Regions from separate parts of the Homo sapiens genome. Here region 2 is reported to be linked to region 1. Evidence: microRNA targets listed by miRTarBase, many of them from high-throughput screens and not tested one by one. Region 1 holds a microRNA gene; the other region holds the end of a gene's coding sequence.
The links. The annotated mature microRNA hsa-miR-6773-3p reads ACUGUCACUUCUCUGCCCAUAG and lies in region 1 at 3,168-3,189, opposite strand. An mRNA with a match to its seed (bases 2 to 7 or 8) in the 3' UTR can be bound and repressed. Matches are read on the target gene's strand: a 7mer-m8 pairs with bases 2 to 8, a 7mer-A1 pairs with bases 2 to 7 and ends in A, and an 8mer does both.

Region 2: miRTarBase lists LDB1 as a target of hsa-miR-6773-3p. Seed matches in the 3' UTR shown: 8mer at 3,897-3,904.

What each region holds. Positions count from the first base shown.
Region 1 is chr16:68,230,259-68,235,616 of GRCh38, forward strand. It overlaps MIR6773 (microRNA 6773), which reads right to left and starts at 3,241; the gene lies at 3,168-3,241. It overlaps ESRP2 (epithelial splicing regulatory protein 2), which reads right to left. Exons shown (of 15, transcript NM_024939.3): 3 at 3,736-3,849; 4 at 3,510-3,624; 5 at 3,069-3,167; 6 at 2,503-2,557; 7 at 2,319-2,429; 8 at 2,113-2,245; 9 at 1,988-2,030; 10 at 1,544-1,845; 11 at 1,224-1,436; 12 at 920-1,118; 13 at 583-769; 14 at 131-296; 15 at 1-57.
Region 2 is chr10:102,103,415-102,108,776 of GRCh38, forward strand. LDB1 (LIM domain binding 1) reads right to left here. Exons shown (of 11, transcript NM_001113407.3): 11 at 3,075-4,909. The coding sequence ends at 4,679. Among named protein-coding and RNA genes, the nearest start is that of LDB1, 14 kb to the right of the region's middle. RefSeq lists an enhancer at 4,106-4,607.

The sequences.
Region 1 (5,358 bases):
CACAGTGCGAGGTGGGTCACCAACAGGCATCAGACTGGTGTAGTCATCAGCGGGTAGCTACAGAAGGGACACAGATTTAGGGCAGAGAGCTCAGCCAGACCCGCCAGGCCCTCCGGCCACACAATCTCACCTGGTAGGCCTGGAAGACGCTGAGCAGATCCTTCATACCAGCCGTGTATGGGACACCCTGCATGCGGACCAAGGCTCCTGACTGGGACAACACTGAGGTGGGAGCAGAGGCCAGGGCAGCAGTGGGTGTAGTGAGGTAGCCCACAGTGGTGGGGGAGACTGGGGGGCTAGGGTGGGAGAGACAAGGTTTAGTCATGCATGCCACCTGTGGCCTAGACCGAGACCTGTTTCCCTCCTCCCTTGTTTCTGCCTTGTGCTTAATTCAGTTCCTCCCTGAAGCCCCAGCCTCTACAGAGTCATTTTCGATCTGTTTTGTAGATGGCATTAGCCAGCTGCCACCTTACTCCCTTGTCATCTCAAGGGAGGAGTTATCTGGTCCAGAAAGGGGATCGTGACCTTTCCCCAGATTGGGACAGGGAGTGGGACTGTGATATTCTCTTAGCTGCAGGGTACCTTGGGTAGTAGGCTGTGTAGTTCAGGTAGAGTTGAGTGGCTGGCCCTGGATAGTAGGCAACAGGGGTGGGGGCAGCAGGCACCCTGGCAGCTGGGAGCAGTGCTGAAGAGGGGTATAGAGCTGCCGTCTCCGTGGGAATGAGCGTTGGGGTGGCTTGGAAGGTGGTGTAGGTAGGTGGTGAGAGGCCTAGAGACGGAAGTAGAAAGTGCATGTGCACGGAGCCCAGCACTGCCCTGGGTGGGGTAGCCAGAAAGGAGTCCCCGCTATAGAAGGTAGGGGCTTACAACAGCCTGGCTACCACAGGCCTCCTCCTCCCCTAGCCCCTAGGGCACTCACAGGGCAGCTTGCAGGGTGGAGGGGACATGCCACTGCGGCCCAAGGTGCCCCCCATCAGCACTCGGCTCATCTCCTCTGTGGAACAGGGGACCACCTCCACGTAGCGCTCCTTCATCACCTTCTTATGGCAACGCTGAGCAGCAGCTAGGGCTCGCTCTGCTGATGTCATCTGAATGAAGGCATCGCCCGATGGCCGGCCCTGTGCACACCATCTTGTGAGCAGTTTGTCATGTGTAAGAGTGCCTTACCCCTAACACACACCCCTTCCTATTTATGTGTTCCCCCTACCAAGCAGTGGCTTCACCTGCTGGTTGAGCACCATGTGTACACCGTGGGGCCGAATGTCAGCTGCTGCCTCCCCCAGAAAGCTCAGGATGTCTTCAATGGTGGCCGTGTAGGGCAGGCCTCGGAGGCGTACACAGTCCCTCCCAGTCCCAGGTGCCAGTGGGAAGGGGATGGGCAGCAGTGGGGCAGTCAGTGTAGGAAGGAGTGGGCCGGATGCATAGCGGTTCAAGACCTAGTAAGGAAGGCAGCAACAGGCTGGTCATGCCAAGTAGGGCAGGGACACAGAGGGCCGCCCTGGAGTAACAGTACATCTGGGGGTGGGGAGCCCTGGGCGCTCACCTGCTGCACTTCGGCTGCAGTGCTCCGGAAGAGTTCAATGTATCGCTTACCCAGCATGCCCTTGTGCCTGCGCAGTGCAGCCTGTGCCAGCTCCTCACAAGCAAAGAGGGCGAAGGCATCACCAGTCGGCCGGCCATCAGGATGGCGCACAAAGAGCAGCCCCTCGGTACCCCCAGTCACTGGGCACTCTGGCCCCAGGAAGCCAAGCACGTCCGTTGGCCCAGCCGAGAAGGGCAGTCCCCGCAGCCGCAGGATCACTTGGTCTTCCCGTGACAAGAAACGAGCCACCTCTAGTGATGTGCCTGTGTATGAGAGTCGCCTGCTGACTTCACTCATGCTCCTCCAGACACTCACCCATGCAGGGGAGCAGGCAGGCAAGGGGTGGTGGGGAAGTGAAATGGATCAAGAACCAGGGGAGCCAGGCCCTGTTTGCAGTATACTCACCCCCTGCAATCTTTACAAACTCCTCCCCTGTCGCTTTATACACCTGTGGGTACAGAGAGCAGCAGCCCATGGGTCTCAGGCCTGACTCAGATTGGCCCTGCTCCGCTCCCAGCCCAAAGCCCCACCTCAATATAGCGGACGCCCATGTGGTGCTTGTGTCTCTGCAGCGCTAGGTCCCGCTGCTCGCTGTCCACAAAGCGGATGAGGGCCTCGCCATTTCTGCGGCCCTGGGCGTTGAGGCAGAGTGCTACACCACCCCTGTGGAGCCAGTGCTGTTAGTGCCTCCTGGGTAGGCCTGTCCAATTGGGCCCACCCACCCTGCCACACCCACCTGGCCACGTTGAGCCCTTTGAAGAAGCGAGCCACGTCCTGGTCTGATGACTGCCACGGCAACCCACGAGCCCGTACCACAGTCTCACTGTCCACCACATCAGCCTTGCTGCTGTAGGGGCAGGGCACAGTGCTGTCAGAGCTATTCAGCTGTTGTCACCCCCAGCCCCTGCTCCCACACTCACCAAGGCCCCGTCTCGTATTTCTGCTTTATCACCTCGGGCTTCGAAAACAATTGACCTGAGAAAAGATGGCCTGGGGGTCAGCAGGGTCTGGTGGAGAGGGGTGTCCCCACCAAGTTCTGCAAAAAGTGGACAATTGAGAGAGATGAAGAAATGACAGGCCGAGCACAGTGGCTCACGCCTATAATCCCAGCACTTTGGGAGGCCAAGGTGGGTGGATCATTTGAGGTCAGGAGTTCCAGACCAGCCTGGCCAACATGGTGAAACCCCATCTCTACTAAAAATACAAAAATTAGGTGGGCATGGTGGCAGGCGCCTATAATCCCAGCTACTCTGGAGGCTTAGACAGGAGAATCGCTTGAACCCGGAAAGTGGAGGTTGCAGTGAGCTGAGATTGTGCCACTGCACTCTAGCCTAGGCTACAGAGGGAGACTGTCTCAAAAAAAAAAAAAAAAAAGAAATGACAAAGAGGATTCCCCCGTGGTCTCTTAGAGAAGGTCACAGTGGGGAGGAGCAATAGGCATTTGTCATCCCTGAGAACAGGTGACAGGCAGTGAGGGAAACCTTACTGCTGGGCTCTTTGAGTAGATGGAGGATAACAGCTACCATTGTCTTGACTTCCCAGACCCCAAAGTCATCCTCTGTGGCATCTGTCTCCAGTCCTAAACCTATGGGCAGAGAAGTGACAGTGAAGACATCTTAGCATAAGCACTAATCCTGTTTACTCCTGGGCCCAACTCCCCTCCATAGACACATGCTGGAGACCAGCATACACATTTGTTTTGGCCCAGTTCATGTGTGCACATACAGATTCCCAGTCCAGACATAGACAGACACATACCCACATTCCAAACTCATCCTAGCACAGACACGAAGACACAGTACACTCAGGGACTTAGCAGATAACGCAGTCTTGTATGTGTCCATATTACCCACCCACAGCATGCACATACTCAGACACATGTACCCACAGTGGCTTCTCCACCCTAACCCTGCTGGGTCACAGATACCCTGTGCCATGGTGGCCACAGTGAGGTCCCTGGCAGGGCAGGTGCTTGGATGCTGCATATGGAATTCTCTTCGGAGGTCATAGAAGGAGAAGAACATGTCGGGGAGCACCAGGTTCTGGGGGCACATAGGATTGAGGATGAGCGCCCTGCCCACCCTCAGGACAAGAGGGGTTCTGGGAACCTTACTGACCACCCCACCCCACCCGGTTTTCCTTCAGGAGCATACCTTCCTGGAGGCCTCGGGGTGCAGGACCTGTCGCAATAGCTGCTGCCCATCAGTGCAGAGCATGTAGGGGCCCCCGCCCAGCAAAGCCACATCCCCGTTCACCAGCTGTGAGAACTGGGGATAGGGAATGGGGAGAGAGAAACACACAGATTCACAGCTGGGCAGGCAGGAAGTGAGGGTAGGAGGAAGGAGGCAGGCTGCAAAGCTGGTTCAGCCAGATGTTCAGCCCTATCCTGCCTGGGAATAAGAGGCCACGCCTGTTGAGCCTAGCCCTATGTCCCTTCCCCTCACCCCCCAACCCTGTTCCAGTCCACTGTCACCTCCTCCAGGCCAAATGAGGGCAATCACATATAACCGAAGCCCTCAACACACACACTCCAGGAGTTTGGAGTGGGGCCAGAGCAAACACCTGGAGTGGGACAAGCAGGTGGGAAGGGGCGGGGCAAAGCAGGTTAAACCTGTCTTTGACCGGGTACCACCCTCAGACAGGTGGGGGAGGCCCAGGCCTGCCTGAGGCCCAGAAGGCTCATGGTCAATGGCAGCCCCGCCTCCAGGTCTGACCAACCGAGGGGCAGAGAAACTCCAAGGACAGAGCTCCACACTTGGACATCAGGGGCAGCATGAGCTTTGACCCACATCCTATTGACCGGCTGGCACTGAGCTGTTTGCTCATAGAGGGGGTGGCACTCCTGAGGCTGCCCAGCCCTCCCCCAGCCTCCATCCTTGCTGGAGAAGTATAAACACTAATCAGTGACCCACGAACCCTCCCTGCCAATTCTGTGACACTTTACAACTTGGGGCTGACAGAGCAAGGCAACCCAGCTCTCCTCCAGCAAACTCCCCAAGTGAAGGGCCGGGAGCCCTTCTGGAACAGACAAGGAATCATCATCGTGGTGCCTCCTCATCAGGAACCACAAGAGTTGTTGGAAGATGAAAGAACGTGAGTGTATAAAAAGGACTTACACTAATTACACTCAAGAGTCAGACATAGAATGAGCGCCGTAGTGAAGATAAGGAAAAGAAAACAGCAATGGAAACCACCTCCCACTTCAGCTAGGGCAGGAGGCACCCCAGGCCTTTGCACTCAGCAGGCAGATAGTCCCCCAGGCCAGGCCGGGACAGCGCCCACGCCTGGCCAGCCGGCCGGGACAGGCCTAGACGAGCAGTTTACACCTGGCGGCGTCTACCTCTAGGGCCGACACCGCCCTACGCCTCCGCTCCAGCAGCTCCCAAGCAGGCCGAAGACGCGGGCCGCAAGGACAGGTGACCTATATGGGCCCCTCGACCCCTTTCGCTTCCGGCTGCGGCTCAGGGAGACCTGACCCAGCAGGTCTCCCAAAGGCGTCTCGGCCTCGCTCCCCGGGCGGGAACTGGGGATGGATCCCAAAGCCTGCGTCCCGATCCCTTCGGTAGGAGTAGGTTCCTGCAATGGTTGAAAAGTAAGGAGCCCAGGGGAATGGCTGGCACGCGCGGATGAAAGGGGCACGCACACGCGAGAGTCGCTCAAAGTTTCAAACAAGAGCCCAGTCCTGCCGCCTGGACCGGTTGGTTGCGGCACGCCAGGCCTAGCCTCCGGCCGCCAATCCCGCCCAGAAATGTCCTCACGTCCAGGCCATGCCGCCA
Region 2 (5,362 bases), not on the chromosome of region 1:
ACTGTTGTCTCAACTTCCCAGGCCCAAGTAATTCTCCCACCTCAGCCTCCCAAGTAGCTGGGACTATAGATGCACCACCACACTCAGCTTATTTATTTATTTTAGAGATGAGGTCTCGGTTGGGTGGAGTGACTCAGGTCTGTAATCTCAGCATTTTGGGAAGCCAAGGCAGGCAGATCACTTAAGGTCAAGGGTTCAAGACCAGCCTGGCTGACATGGTGAAAACCCATCTCTACTAAAATTACAAAAACTAGCTGGGCATGGTGGTGCGCACCTGTAGTCTCAGCTACTAGGGAGACTGAGGCAGGAGAATCACTTGAACCCAGGAGGCGGAGGTTGCAGTGAGCCGAGATCATGCCACTGCACTCCAGCCTCGTCGACAGAACAAGATTCCATCTCTTAAAAAAGAAAAAGTAGAGATGAGGTCTCACTATATTGCCCAGGCTAGTCTTGAACTCCTGATATGGTAAAACCACGTCGCTACTAAAAATAAAAAATAAAAAAATTAGCCAGGTATGGTGTCATGTGCCTGTAGTCCCAGCTACTTGGGACGCATGAGAATCATTTGAACTAGGAGGCAGAGGTTGCAGTGAGACGACATCATGCCACTACACTCCAGCCTGGGCGACACAGCAAGACTCTATCTTAAAAAAAAAAAAAAGAAGTCAGGCTGGACTGGGCTAAGGGTATAAAAGAGGGGTTGGAAGTTGCACCAGACTACAGTAGGTTCCTAGGAAAGGGGATGGAGCTCTCTGGCTGAATCAGATCAGACCGGGTCAGGAAAAATGAGGAAGGAGCTGGGAGTCCAGGAGGGACAGAGGTTTGGGGTTGGGTTCAGACCTCTGTGGATCCAGAAGCCCTGGCTGGGGTACATGGTCAGACTATCCGAATGAATTAATTCACCAACAGACACATACGTAAACATATGCGTATACATGCCTACATACAAACACACGTATACACTGCCTTACCTGCACATATAAACAGATCCAGGCCCTCCCTAGCTCAGCAGCACAAAGCTCTTCAGCAATGTGCTAAGGCTTGGGACTGGGCCCACATATGTACCTGAAAACAAAGGGCATGAGGGTTTTGGAGGGTCTCTCTCTTCCCTCACCCCAGTAATTCCTCTTCACCAGGGGTTCCTGGGGGCAAATGGGGAGGAGCCAGATATGGGGCTCCAGAGGAAGTTGCTGGCCACTGTGTTTCCTGAGTTCAATAGTGTGTTTTCCTGCTTCTCTGACCTACCCCCTGCCCCCAAGTAGGATGGGGTCCAGGCCTGGCAATCTACCTTTTCCCTTGACTATCTCCCTCCATACACAAACATATACATACAAGACGTGAACCTACAAATACCCAACCGAGTCACACAACCACTGTCCCAGCAGCCCCATAACTCAACACAGTCGCACTGCTAAGCCACACATTTAACAACACACCCTCATTTACGGATTTATAGCCTTCACTCACACTCAGCAGTCACATCTTCTCTGCTTTGTTCAACATCATATCCCCAGCACCTAGAATGGGCCTAGTACCTAAAGAGGGCTCAATGAATAATATTTGAATGAATTAATTAACCAACAGACACATACATAAACATATGCATATACATGCCCACATACAAACACATGTATATACTCCCTTACCTGCACATATAAACAGATCCAGGCCCTCCCTAGCTCAGCAGCACATACATACACACACACTCAGGCTAATGGGCTAGATGTACACTCAGTGCCAGACACAGACCCACTGTAGATGTTACCTGGCACTCTCAGGGTGAGTTGCTGGTGGCAGTTGGCTGGTAAATGTCCTTCAGGCTGGCCAGATCTACAAAGGAAGAGTTGGGGGTGGGGTGCAATAGCATTCCTTGGGGTCCTGAGGCACTGGGTTATGAGAAGCTGGGCTGGCAGCAGGGCACGGCCAAGATAACTGTAGATTGGAGATTGGACAGGTCATACAGTCCCTTCCTCTGGTGTCTTCCTACCAGCTAGGGAGGTGAGGGTAGAGGTGCCAGTCTATCGGGCTTTATTTCAGGTCCAGGGAGAACTTAGGAGGGGAACAGTTTGAGGCCTCAGCTTCCCCTGCCTGGGATGACAAAGAGGGACACTGGATAGGGAGCTTTATGGGCACTAAGACCCCATCTCCAATCTACAGCGGGGTCTCCATATCTTCCCAGTCTGGAGAGTAGCAATCCTGCTACTCTCTTAATCCCCCACCCAGGGACCTTAGCACCAGGGGAGACTAATTTAGACCTCAGCTGCTGACCGGGCAGAGTGGACCACGCCTATAATCCTAGTACTTTGAGAGGCCAAGGCGGGTGGATCACCTGAGGTCAAGAGTTTGAAACCAGCCTGGCCAACATGGTGAAACCCTATCTCTACTAAAAAAAAAAAAAAAAAAAATACAAAAATTAGCCAGGCATAGTGGTGGGCACCTGTAATCCCAGCTACTTGGAAGGCTGAGGCAGGAGAATCACTTGAACCCAGGAAGTGGAGGTTGCAGTGACCTCAGATCATGCCACTGCCCTCCAGCCTGGGTAATGGAGCAAGACTCCATCTCAAAATAAATAAACCAACTAACCAACCAACATCAGCCAGGCTAGTAGACTGGGGGCTGGGTAGGGGTAGGAGTCTCCCAGGTACTCTAAGTACCCCAAGACCATCTAACCCAAGCCCCCTCCTGGGCCAAGTCCCCTCTCCCACCCCTCCCTCAACGGCATAACCCAAGGCAGTCTATCCCAGGAACCTGCCCCAGGAGGGCCACCTGTCTGGCTGCCCCATGACAGCTAAGGGTGAGAAGCAACAGTCCTGGGGTGAGAGGTGGGGAGCAGACTGAGAAAGCCAACTCTCCCTCAACTTTTGAGGGAGATGGGGCCAAGCTGGGACATCTGGGAACAAACTTTAGGGTCTTGGGTGAAGGAGAAGTGTAATTCAGGGAAACAACTTCAAGAGTGAGGGGAAATGTGAGGTGAGTGAAGGGATCCAATTCATAGTCTTAGGAACTGCAAGGATGGGGAAAAGATTGCCTTGGACTGAGTCATTATTAGGCATCAATGACCAACCAGGACACTCTCAAACCGAAAAGTCTCTTTATTGATTGGTACCATACATGACTCAAATGGCCCAAAAAAAAAAAAAAAAAAAAAAAAAAAAAAAAAAAAAAAAAAAGGCATTACAGTTGGGATGGGATGTCCACCTTCCTCACCCCTTCCCTCAGCTCCTGACTCAATACCCTTCCAAAAGTGGCAGCTGGAGTGGAGGAAATACGGTGTGGGGGACCCCAGAATCCAGAGGGAAGAGTGGGGAGAGAGGTGGTGTTAGCACTTCCTGGGACTGGCCACAGGAAAAGGCAGCAAAGCCACAGAGCTGGACCAGCTGCGTGAAACCCTGCTCCTGGCTGCACCCTGGCAGAGCCGAGGATCCCGGCTGCCTCCTCCTCCTTCCTTCTGTGAGGAAGGAGCGGCAGGGGATACTGGCAGGTGAAGACCCTCTACCTCTACCTCACCTATGGGGACAGAGGCCTGTTCCTCCCTGGTGGGCTTAGAACTGGGATGTCATCTGTGGCTCCTTCCCCTCTATGAAGGACAGAGTAGGATTACATATGCAGTTGGAGGGGCTGAGGGAAGATTCTGGAGGAAAGTGGCTGAGCCCCTCTCCCATCCCATGCCTGCCCAACTGAAACAAAACCAAAAATACAGCAACAAGGCTGCTCCCTTCTCTCCACGCTCCCTAAGGGAAGGAGCCTCCCCTCCCCGCATCCTAGACAGCTGCTCTTGTGGAGGACTTGTAAGGAATATACATACCATGGGGGTGGGGCTGGAAGAGAGGGAGTCACAAGCACTAGGAGGGCAGGCCAGAGTCCAGAGAATGGGGACACAGAGACAACAGCAGGGGTCTGTCACCAAAATGTGGCCACCAATGTCCCCCTACCCCATGGCATGCTTTCCTCAACTGCAGTCACCCCAGAGGAAAGGGGGAGAGATGGTGAAATGTCTCCTTGGTCTGAAGCTCTCACACCATATAAAATGGTATGCACACCTCCCTCCCCCACTCTCACCCCCACCTAGGCCCTAGGCCCCCATCTGCCAAGAGTAGGGAGGTAGCTGGACTTTTAATAGGGGGAAGAGGGGGGGACATGAGTGATTTTTTTTTTAACTTACATTTTTAATAATATTATTTTTAAAAAAACTTGGAGCTGGGATAAGTGGCAGCAGGGAGGAGGGGCCCAGAGCTTTACCCCTCTATTACCAGCTGCCTAGGGGAAGGAGCATTCAACGAAGCCCCGTAACTTTAAGTCCCTAAGGGCTGTGGGTATAGACAACCCCAGGCTTGAAAGGGGTAAAGTCAGGGGGATGGGAAACCCACAATCTGGGGTGAAGATGGAGGCAAATGCCCTGGGGGGTGGTCAGGACATGTCTCAGAGGCCCAGGTTCCAAGTAGGCATCCACATGAGTACCCCCTCCCCCTAAAAGGCTCTGTAGAGGCCAGGCCCAGCCCAGGGCCACTGGGGGGGCAAATCTTGGCACCTGCCCCCAGAGAGTCCAGTTCCTCCCTGAAGCGGGTGGATGGAGGCTGCCCATTTTAGATGCTCAGTCTCTTCATTCTGTCTTCTGCTCCCTGGGGCTGTGAGGGGTGGGGCAGGTAGGCAGAGCACTGGGTGGCCACAGCAGGGCCTTTTACTGGGAGGCCTGTGACGTGGGGTTCTCCGATTTGCTTTCTTGGCTGGACGGAGGCTTGCTGTTCCAGGGGCTGTTGGCGCCCAGTGCAGGGGAGTTGTTAAAGCTGTCCTCGTCGTCAATGCCGTTGGCTGCGTCAAACTGGGTGTTCTCCAGCCGGGTGATGAGCCTCTCGTCCTCGTCCCCGAACTCCCCGCCCATCAGGGTGGGCTCCCCCACCACCATCACATCCTGAGAGTGGCGGAGGTCCCCAAACATAATCGGGGCAAGGGCTCGCCCGGCCCAGGGCGGCAGATACCCCCAGAGCCCCAGTACCCACCCTGGAAGCTCAAGAGTCCCCACCCCCTCCTCATACCCGAATTTAAAACCCCAACTCCTGACACCCTCAGCTCCTGGAATCCTTCCTACTGAAGAACACCAGAGCATCAAAGCCTTTAGCCCATATCCATTACATTCTAGAAGTCACTCTACTCCCCTAGCTCCCTAGCCCATCTCCCCAAAATTTTAGGGGACTCCTCAACTTCTGTCCACATGTAAGAAAGGGAGCATATCAAAAACATGAGGGAGGGCAGTGTGTGCATGTGCAAGGGTATGTATTCTGGATCTGCAAACACTCCAGTCTGCATGTCTATCAGTGTGAGTGTGTGTGCTGGATGGTCTGTGAGCCCCAAGCTGTCTGTCCTG